3 linked regions of the Homo sapiens genome follow. The protein of the gene in region 2 interacts with the protein of the main gene of each other region in a pairwise test. Each region holds a gene or a part of one and is shown on either strand. Other genes may lie near its edges.

Region 1 (3,657 bases), about 18 Mb from region 2:
CAGCTAAGGATCCCTAGAGAGGTTGGTACTCCACTCACTTATTCACTCATTTATTCAACAAACCTCTTGTGAGTGTGTACTCTGTGCCAGACACTACAAAGGGCTCTGAAAAGTCAAAGATGGACCAAACTCAGCCCCCTCACCAGCCCCATTCCCACAACCACTCTGCATGGAGCTTAGGTCCCTATGGCTCCGCATCTTTGAGCTGAAGAAATGAAGCCCAGAGAAACCCCACAGCCAGCCCATGGCAGTGTTGGAACCAGAGGCCACAACTTCTGACCTCCAAACCACACTCTTCCCCATACATCAAGCTAAGGAGAGTCTGCTTTCCTGGTCCACTGTCATTGTAAAGGAGCTTTATTTGTCCTCTTTTTGTCAAAACAAAATAGGAAGCAAGGACAGTGAGGAAAGAATAACCTCTGCCAGCTGCAACTGAGAAAAGATTCCCCTGCTAAAAGCAACATGAGGTCCCAGGGAAAATGTTTGTCACTTAAGTCAACTGCAGGTAAGGGAAGGAAGCATTTGGGATCAGAAATTGGACAAGTTATTTAAAGTCTTTCAGCCACCCCTCCTACATCCATGAAATAAGAATAATAATGTATAGTGAGCCGTAAACACTCCAACTGCACTCCAACCTGGGCAGAAGTGAGACCATCTCAAAAAAAAAAAAAAGAATGCATAATAGCTTCTTATAGATCAATGTGAGTAGATACGGAAGCTATCCAAGTTTTATCATTAAATTAAAAACCACAAGTTGCAGAACTGCATATACAATGTGATTCCATTTCTATTCAATTTTTTGTCTGAAAGAAAACACAAAAAAACCTTGTGACAGTGGTTACCCCTAGAGATTAGGAACAAAGGAGTAGAGATATTGGAAGCCTTGATTTTCTCCTTTACATCATCTTCTACTATTACATTTCTTACCATAAGCATGTATTATTTTTAATTCTTAAAACAAAGAAAAATACTATGAGTATTTTTCTTACACTGAGTATTTTTTAAACAGAAAGAAAAATGCTATGAGAAAAATACTATGAAGAAAAATTCTATGAGTAAAAATACTATGAGAAAAATACTATGAAAAATTAAATGAATGGTACACATAATTAGTACACTTTTCTATGTGTATATTATACATCAATAAAGAGTTTTTTCAAAAACTGGAGTAGGTCTATGTGCTTAAACATGAAGAGATTTCATAGATATAGTAAATGAATTAGCAAATCATTGAATCTCCAGAGCATGAAATTCTAGTTCTGCAAAAAATCAAGAAACTATATGCATACACATATAAATGTATATGAAAAGATCTGCAAGTATATACACACTTAATAACATATTCTTCTATATGGTTGAATTTTTTTTTACAACCAGAATGCTTTTACATACATTTTGAAATCTACATTCTTTCTCATTTTAAAAATGATAACACTTAGGCTGGGTGCCGCAGCTCACGCCTGTAATCCCAGCACTTTGGGAGGCTAAGGTGGGTGGATCACTTGAGGTCAGGAGTTGGAGACCAGCCTGGCCAACATGGTGAAAACCCACCTCTACTAAAAGTACAAAAATTAGCCAGGCATGGCGGTAGGCGCCTGTAATCCCAGCTACTTGGGAGGCTGAGGTGGGAGAATCGCTTGAACCCAGGAGGCTGAGGTTGCAGTGAGCTGAGATCTCACCATCGCCCTCCAGCCTGGGTGACAGAGTGAGACTCTGTCTCAAAAAAATAAATAAATAAAATGATAACACTTGACCCCAGAAAGCTGTTGTGAGGTTTACATGATTATGGTTACATGACACTTTATGTGATATAAAAAAGAATCATTACTTTTTTAAAAAAATTATCAATTAGTATGCACCACAGACCCCCTTTCCCATACCTTCCTTCTACCCTGTTCAAGATCTCATCTCCGAGTCTCACCATCAAGCCTAGCTCAGGAATGAAGTAAAGGTCAGGGATGGGGCAGACATGAAGCCTGGAGTAAGGATCAAGGATGGATAAAATAAGAGGTCAAGCATGCAACAAACATGGTTTAGCCAAAACAAACAAACAAACAAAACCCACCTTTTCCGTTTTAATTCAATCATTCTGAAACACACAGAAACATTTCCCTCATCCAAACCACCACATTAAATGTCTTGCTTGGGTCCGGTATGAGTTAATACACATCCCCATCCCCATCTGTGCGAAGACAACAACTCCTTTGTCCGTCAGTGTTTGTAGTGAACCTTACACGCCAGGGGAGCATGTCCCAACCACTCTGGTCCACACTTGGTATTCTTTGACCATGCACTTAATCCAAGGACCACGAACTACAAAAAAGAACCCCATCATAGATAGAGACTTATTCTATATCTTATCCCACCCCCTGATGCTTCACTATCTGCTGCCTTACTTGTTGTTTCTTGTGTGTTACCTCCCCCAAATGTAAACTTTTTCAACAGAAACATGCATTAATGTCATCTTTGACCTAGTATAGATTATTGAACATAACTGGACCTGAAAGCTCTCTACAGGTGCTTGTTCATAGATGGATGTCAAAGATGTCCCACGGCACAGTTCACAGCTGGCAGTTGCTTTCCACACCAAACCTGGAGCAACTCAGTTGTCCTAACTTTCTCCCACTACTTCCTTCAATTCTTTCTGCCAATGCCATTCCTTGGAATAAAGCCTAGAATGCCTTACTAGGGTGCTACTTAGCCCTGGAAAGCACCAAGTAAGGATCTGTATCTGGTTTGTCCATCATTACCTATCCCTTGAGTAATGCCTTAGGTACTACTGAGTCCTGGAAAGCACTCTCTCCAGACTCCAGCTACAGATCAATCCAATTTGTCAGAGATAAGAAAGTAGTAGTTTTCCCCTCTCAATATTTCCTTCATTTCCTCCAGAACTTTCTGTGCATCTGGTATACTGTCACATAAACTTCAACTTCCTTATAACATGCCTGTCTATTTTAAGAAATTATGCCAGGCAATGTGGGTAGTTGAGGGAGTAGGGAGGGGCTGAACAACTTCTCAAAGGTATTCCATGACAGAACACAGAAGGCTGGACCACTGCCAGTTTCTGGGGAAACCAGGACTGAAGGGATTGGCAGTGGACCGAGAGGCCACTCAAGGGGCTGACCTTTAGGAGTATGTCTACAGTCAGAGTACAAGTTGGCTAGGGCTACTACATCCAAGGGCACAGACTGGGTGGCTTAAACAACAAAAATGTATTTCCTCACAGTTCTGGAGGCTGGAAGTCCAAGATCAAGGTGTCAGTGGGGTTGGCTTCCTTTGAAGGCAACTCTCCTTGGTTGGTAAGTGGCATCTTCTCCATGTGTCTTCACATGGTCTTCCCTATGTGTCTGCATCCTCATCTCCTCTTCTTATAAGAACACTGGTCTTACTGGATTAGGGCCCATGCATGTGACCTCATTTTACCTTAACCCCCTCTTTAAAGGTCCTATCCCCAAATATGGCCACATTGTGAGGTACTAGGAGTTAGAACTTCAACGTAGCAATGTTGGGGGACATAATTCAGCCCCTAACAGTCAGCAACAGGGAAAGAGGGAGAAAGGAGGTATGACTGTGCTATGGAGAAATGAAAGCAGACACAGCATTTACAGGGGAAAATAAATTTCATGTGTGTTCCCTCATATCTAGAATTCCCTACCT
Region 2 (3,657 bases):
AGGAATGTGCCACCATGCCTGGCTAATTTTTATTTTTTGTAGAGATGAGGTTTCACTGTGTTGTCCAGGCTGGTCTTGACCTCTTGGGCTCAAGTGATCCTCCCACCTTGGCCTCTCAAAGTGCTGGGATTATAGGTGTGAGCCACTGTGCCTGGCCTGAAGTGCTATTTCTTTAACAGCTGCTTTTGGTATCAATACCCTGTTGGTTATTAGTTTAAAATTTTAGTCAATGATGCTTTTTGGGTGGGTGTGAAGGGGGAAGAAAATCTTGAGCATGTAATGACTTAAATTGTTTCCCAAATCAAATTAAATTCTGGGCCAGTATAAGACCTACACACTCACATTTCACAAGTGAGGGCATGGATGGGGGTAGGGGCAGGCAGGGAAAGGAGAAAAGAGGACAATCAGCACCCCTGAGGGGCTGAACATAGGGGGCATCCAAAACGTGCTTGCTGTGGGAAGAATGGCCTCAGGAAATCCTGACCCAAATCCTGCACACAGTGTGGGCAGATCTCACCTATTCTGTTAAAGGGTCCAATCATTTTTTGTTTTAACCTGAAGGATTTAAATTGAAGTAGCATAGGTATAACTTATGAAGTATTCAAAGTGTCCTAGCTTACTCACTCTCTCATTTTTTTAATTTTTAATACCGTTAGCTGTTTTTTAATAACTGGCACTCAGATAGTGTATAATTATTCTACTATACATGTCTCCGGGAAAAAAAAATTCTTTCTCCATGTGGCGAGGCAAGGAAGTCTTCGTGTTCCACCACCGCAGGCTGTTTGGCAGGAGTGGTCTGTTTAATGATCTCCCCCAGCTGTGCTCACTGAGTCAGTGAGCTCTGCATCTGCCTCTCTGTCTGCATGTTGTCTGGGCTGTGATCCATGTGAGGAGTGCAGATTAGTGGGGAGGATAAACAGCATCACTTCAATGAGACGGTGGAGCCAGAGGCCTGTTTTTTATCTTATGATGGTGTGCAAGCTTCTCTCTAGCAACGTAAGTTCACTTTTTATGTCTTTTCCTAAGAGGGCTATTTTTTCCAACATAAGTTATAAGTGGGCAACATATAAAGCAAGGCTGGCACCTCATATTGGGGTACTCCAGACACCACCAGGTAAGAAACTGGATCATTAGTACTAGTTAAAATGTTTAAAGATCATAACCTTTGACTAGTAGTCCCACGTTCAGAAATTTATTCTTCAGAAATAAAAGCATCAGCAGAAGTGAACATGCTTATGAGGGTATTTACTGCAGCATTTTTTGTAGTGGCAAAAACCAACAAGGAACAAAACAAAACAACATCCCCCTGCCCCACTAAATAAAACAAACAAAACAACCTGAATGTCCATCAACAGGGGAAATACTGAACCAGCTATGATATACTATGAGGTATCAGGCAGGATACCTCATAGTAGGAGAAAATGAATTAGAATTAGACCTATTATCCTGAAGAGAAGTCATAAATGTCATTGTTTTTTAAAGCACTCTGCTGAGTAACAGGTATCGTATGGTAAAAATTTCTGGAAAAAGTCCATTATGTGTATATGTGTAAGCTTTGGTTTGGCATGCCCAAAGGCACAGAAGGCTGCATACTTTGTTCACATTGGTTACCGTGGGGAGTTTACATTTTTTTTTAATCCAAAATCTCTGAATTGTTTGACTTGTTACAACGAATATATTTTACTTTTCTAACAGAAACAAATCCAATAAAATAAATTCAATCATAAGGAAAAAGTTACAAGATTAAGCTGAGTTAACACCTCTGCCAAACAAACCAGAACAAAACCACTTAAAAATAAGAGAACAAAAGAAACTTCTGGTTTCTTTTGTTGCTTTTTCAAGGCAATAATGGCCATAAAATTTTCCATAAAGTAACTAGAAAAATAAAAACTCTTTTTCTGGGGTTCAATTTAAAAGGAAATAATGCAGATATAAAATTTTGAATTTATCTAATTTAGGCATATTTAGTTCATAACAAGTAGCTTCTATTTGTAACCTTGAATAATATAACCATTTAGATAAATCACTATTTTATTATTTTAAAAATTTTTACTTATCAGAATCTGAGGGTCATTGGGGGAAGCAGTTCTTCAGAAGTGGCAAAGACGACAAGAGATAATTCTCCCAGTTTCTTTCAGCCTAATTATGCTTATGTTCAGCTCTTTTAAAAAGATTATTGATTAACTCTCTTGTTAAAGGTAATGCCTCCACATGGTCTGAAATTCAAAAGGGAGCAAAATGCATACAGTGAAAACCAGGTTCCCTGTTCTCTCCTATCCAGTTCCTTCATAAAAGACACACTTTGTACCACCTTTTCATACATTACTGTACATTGCATTTGACATTTAACACAAACAATAGCTAAAATAACATAAAAAGTATCCTGTATCTTGCATTTTTCACCTAATAATATCTTGGAGGTTGGTCCAAAGTAGGGGATAATAGGTCTCCCTCCCTTTTAATTATCACACAATACTCCATTGTTATGGATGTACTATAATTTATTTAAGCAGTCCATTGACATTTATTTCCAATATTCTGTAGTAGAAGTCCTTAATCTAGAGCCCAAAATGGGCCCTCTAAGCTCTGGATATTGTACCTTGAATTGTGTACACATGAGCTAATGGCTATTTTCTTTTTTTTTTTTTCCTCACAGCTCCAAACAGTCACTGAATTAATGGCTATTTTCAAGGGAGAGAAAAGACTCTCAGGCTATGTCAGATTCTCAGAGTTTGGTAATCTGGAAAGGGTTAAGAACTTGCTGCCATAATTCTATCACAGACTGCTCTTGCTTCTACAGAAAAACAAAAAACAAAAAACACGGAGCATCTTAAGAAGAATCTCCTATCTGAATCTAAGACAAGAAAATGGCATTTTTGTCTACTTTTATTTGCAGTGATGGCATTTTTGTCTACTTGTATTTGCAATGTTTATTCTGTCTTCCCTCTACCCCCTCACACCAGCACCAATTATTCCACACCTGCTGGTGAACAAGCAGAGGCCTCTTTACACCTATATCCGCATGGTCTTCATTACTGGATTGAGAAAAACACTGATGATGAAGTAGTTTTCCGCCCATTACCTGTCTCTAATAATATGCTTGTCATCACAATTAGTTTCACCATCCCTGGCTTGCTTTTCTGTCATTTCTTTCCCTTGAGTTCTGTTAATAGCAGAAATTGGCTGCTAAACTATTATTCTGGTCTGTGTAATGGGGCTGATGGCAGAAACATTCTGCTTCTTTTGACAACTGGGTATGATTTGTAAAGGTGTGAAGAAGAATTGCTAATACTTCTGGGCTCCATTACATTAACCTGGAAGGCATTCTACCCAAGAAATGAATCCAATATTAAATTGCCTGTTTTATGAGTTTTTATTTAATAATTTTTCTAATCTTTACAATGTTTTCATAGCTTCAGTATTTTCAGATCTCTATTTCCTGAGATTAATATGGCAACTTCATTTTATGAATGCTATTTTATTAGATTTTCTTTATTTTTGAGGTAAGAGAAACGGAAGGGAAGAGTTATTTGTAAGTTTCTCTTCTTTCTCCTGTGTTCCTCTCCCAGTTTCTGCCTGGTGTCTGGATGATTAGGCAAGGTTTCCCAGGACCATAAACCTTTATTTACAATGACAATGCTACCAAAATACCACCAA
Region 3 (3,032 bases), on a different chromosome or scaffold from region 2:
TCTTTCTGTAAAGTCCAGTGTGGGTGAAGCCTTAGAGGCCAAGGTCGTGAAAGGATCTACTGGAGGGCTGGTGCCGGGCGGGAGCAGAGGGACAGGAGGTGGAGGAGGTCTTCTTGACGGCAACACACAGAAGGAGACATTTGTACCTTTATTCCAGTCATCATTCAATGTCAGGTTGGAGCCAGAAAATGAACTTGGCTGATTACCCAGTAAGTCTGAACAAGCTGACTTTGACTTCCCTTTCACACCAAAATCCTCTTCTTCCTCGAAGGTTACCCATCCTTTCGGGTTGCTAATTTTTAATGTAGACTGGCCCTGTAGATCAAAACTGTCCTTAAAGCCATCAAGTGAAGATGAAGCCCTGCTTTTGTTATGACCAAGAGGCTGCAGAGAAGGGAAAGGACTGATAGTAACGGGCTCTTCTTTGGAGAACCATGAAGTTGCCTCTGATTCTTCAGACTTGGCTCTAAATGGGTTTCCAGGAGCAGCAGTCCTGTCACTGAAAGGATTTGTCCTGGTCAAGCCAGTAATAAATGGGTTTGGAGAACTTCGCATATTTTCCTGGGATTGACTCCGAGCTGGAATTGGAGGCATTGTTGGCATGCAACTTACAGAACTCAAAACATTACTTTGCGTTGCAGAAGGCAACTGAATCAACCTCTTTGGGTCTGGGGTGGGAACAGGTGACGTTTGAACAGATAGCTGAGCCTTTGATACAGCAAGCAGATTAAATGACAGATCTTCAAATGGGTCAATCTTTAATGGTGATTCTCTTTTGCCATCAGAGATTCCATTTGTTTTTACCTGCAAAAGAAAGGGAGCACTGAAAAATCAGTTTATATTTACTCTTAATACCCCCTATTCTTCCTGTCTCAATTATTCTTCCCTTTTAGGGGCAAGCATGTAAATTTAGAAACTAAAAAGTAGCTTTGTGTAGTTTGTTACTCCGGTGGTTTAAATAACATGAAACACCTACAGTCTTTAAAAACTTCTTTCTAAATAAATCCTTTCTAATTAAATCCATTTTTAAATCCCTCAAAATCAAAGAGCTTATTTCATTCATGCAAGTTTTGAAATGGTAAGAAGGAGAATTGTACAGAATTAACAAATTTGTTCATGCCCAGTTCTATCACATTTCAGCATGAACTTAAGAAATCCATACTTATAACTTATGCTAAATCTATATAAATAAAATTCTAACACCCATCTATGATGATGATGTGGTTTCATTGTTCTTTTAAGTGTGTTTTCTAAAATTAATGTTACTATGGAAATTCAATTTTATAGATAAAATTAATTCTATTAGCATATTTTATTCCTAAGACGAAGACTCCATCTTTCTGTCTTCTACTTGGAAAAATAAATTTTGAGAGTTCTTTGCCCACCCCCTCTTTTTTTTTTTTTTGGAGACCAAGTCTTGTGCTGTCACCCAGGCTGGAGTGCAATGGCACGATTTTGGCTCACTGCAACCTCCACCTCCCGGGTTCAAGTGATTCTTGTGCCTCAGCCTCTTGAGTAGCTGGGACTACAGGCGTGTGCCACCAGGTCTAGCTAATTTTTTGTATTTTAGTACAGATGGGGTTTCACTATGTTGCCCAGGCTGGTCACAAACTCCTGAGTGCAGGCAATCTGCCCACCTTAGCCTCCCAAAGTGTCAGGATTACAGGCGTGAGCCACCATGCCCGGCACAGCTGACTTTTAATGTAAGCTCTCCTTTGTTGAATAAACTGAGTAATGTGAGGCTGGGCGCGGTGGCTCAAGCCTATAATCCCTGCACTTTGTAAGGCTGAGGCAGGTGGATCACCTGAGGTCAGGAGTTCCAGACCAGCCTGGCCAACATAATGAAACCTGTCTCTACTAAAAATACAAAAAATTAGCTGGGCATGGTGGTGCGCGCCTATAATCCCAGCTACTCAGGAGGCTGAGGAAGGAGAATTGCTTGAACCTGGGAGGCAGAGGTTGCAGTGAGCTGAGATCGCACCACCGCACTCCAGCTTGGGCAAGAGCAAAACTCCGCCTCAAAAAACAAAAAACAAAAACTGAGTAATGTGACAACTTTCCATAAAAAAATTGACCCTCCTGTCTTGTAAAAATATTCCAAAACAGATACACTATTAGTAACCAAATGCAACCATTGCTTAAAACCAGAGGAAAAAAAGTTCCATTTTCTATTTGGTTTATGAAGTCTACAACCACAATGATGTGCCTAGAGTGGTGCCTGGTCCCTTCTATGTGACAGAGTTGGCTGTGAACTGTTATCAGTAGGAAGAGTGCTTGGAATTCCTTCACTCCTGCCCTAAATCCCTTGGTCCCTACTCCATAAAGAAGGTGGTTGGAGTGGAGCACAGCCAAGGGACTGAGCAAAGACAAATGATCGGATGAAGGAAAAGAACTATGATTCTTGCCTCATAAGCAAATTAGCTTATCAGGCATACATTATTAATTTTGAAAAAAATGTATATAATTCTTAAAACTAGGGTAGATGACTTGGACACTTATGCTAACTTAAGAAAACTTCAGGGTTGGATACGATAGGGCAAAAAAAAATTCAGTTCAAGACTGGCAATGTAATAAAATGAGCACTGCCCAAAAGGAATTTGGATAGTTGTTAAAGCAACATAACTATACTTTCATGAAATATATTGGAAAAAAACAGCAGCAGTCTCAATAAAATGTAACTGCATACTATGAAACACTTAGTTACTGCTTAAGAATATGGAAGGATGTTCACTTGTAAAAGGAAATGGATGACTTAAGTGAATAACTTTCAAGTATCTGTTTTATTCAACTATCCTAGAATATGCTTTATAATTGGTTGAAACAGTATATTTTTCTTCAAACTTAGTGTGATAAATTTGTACAAAACTAAAGAGAAAACATGTCACAGACTTTAAACTGTACTCTAAATGTCTTAGGTAAGTAGACCTATATGTGGAAATGTACTTAAAAGGAAATTTATATAGATATTATAAAATTAACTCTATATTACCAAAAATCTCTGGACTATTTATAGTTAATACAAAATGAAATAC

The links.
Region 1: the proteins of SH3D19 (region 2) and SH3RF1 interact in a two-hybrid assay, tested with the Homo sapiens proteins (one large-scale study listed by BioGRID).
Region 3: the proteins of SH3D19 (region 2) and SYNJ1 interact in a two-hybrid assay, tested with the Homo sapiens proteins (one large-scale study listed by BioGRID and IntAct).

The regions. Positions count from the first base shown.
Region 1 is NC_000004.12:169,260,947-169,264,603, forward strand, and holds part of SH3RF1 (E3 ubiquitin-protein ligase SH3RF1), read right to left. Parts: intron 1-3,657. UniProt on the Homo sapiens protein: Has E3 ubiquitin-protein ligase activity. In the absence of an external substrate, it can catalyze self-ubiquitination. Stimulates ubiquitination of potassium channel KCNJ1, enhancing it's dynamin-dependent and clathrin-independent endocytosis.
Region 2 is NC_000004.12:151,168,576-151,172,232, forward strand, and holds part of SH3D19 (SH3 domain-containing protein 19), read right to left. Parts: exon of another isoform or gene 2,657-3,657; intron 997-2,656; exon of another isoform or gene 834-996; intron 1-833. UniProt on the Homo sapiens protein: May play a role in regulating A disintegrin and metalloproteases (ADAMs) in the signaling of EGFR-ligand shedding. May be involved in suppression of Ras-induced cellular transformation and Ras-mediated activation of ELK1.
Region 3 is NC_000021.9:32,630,998-32,634,029, forward strand, and holds part of SYNJ1 (synaptojanin-1), read right to left. Parts: intron 824-3,032; coding exon of another isoform or gene 1-823. UniProt on the Homo sapiens protein: Phosphatase that acts on various phosphoinositides, including phosphatidylinositol 4-phosphate, phosphatidylinositol (4,5)-bisphosphate and phosphatidylinositol (3,4,5)-trisphosphate. Has a role in clathrin-mediated endocytosis.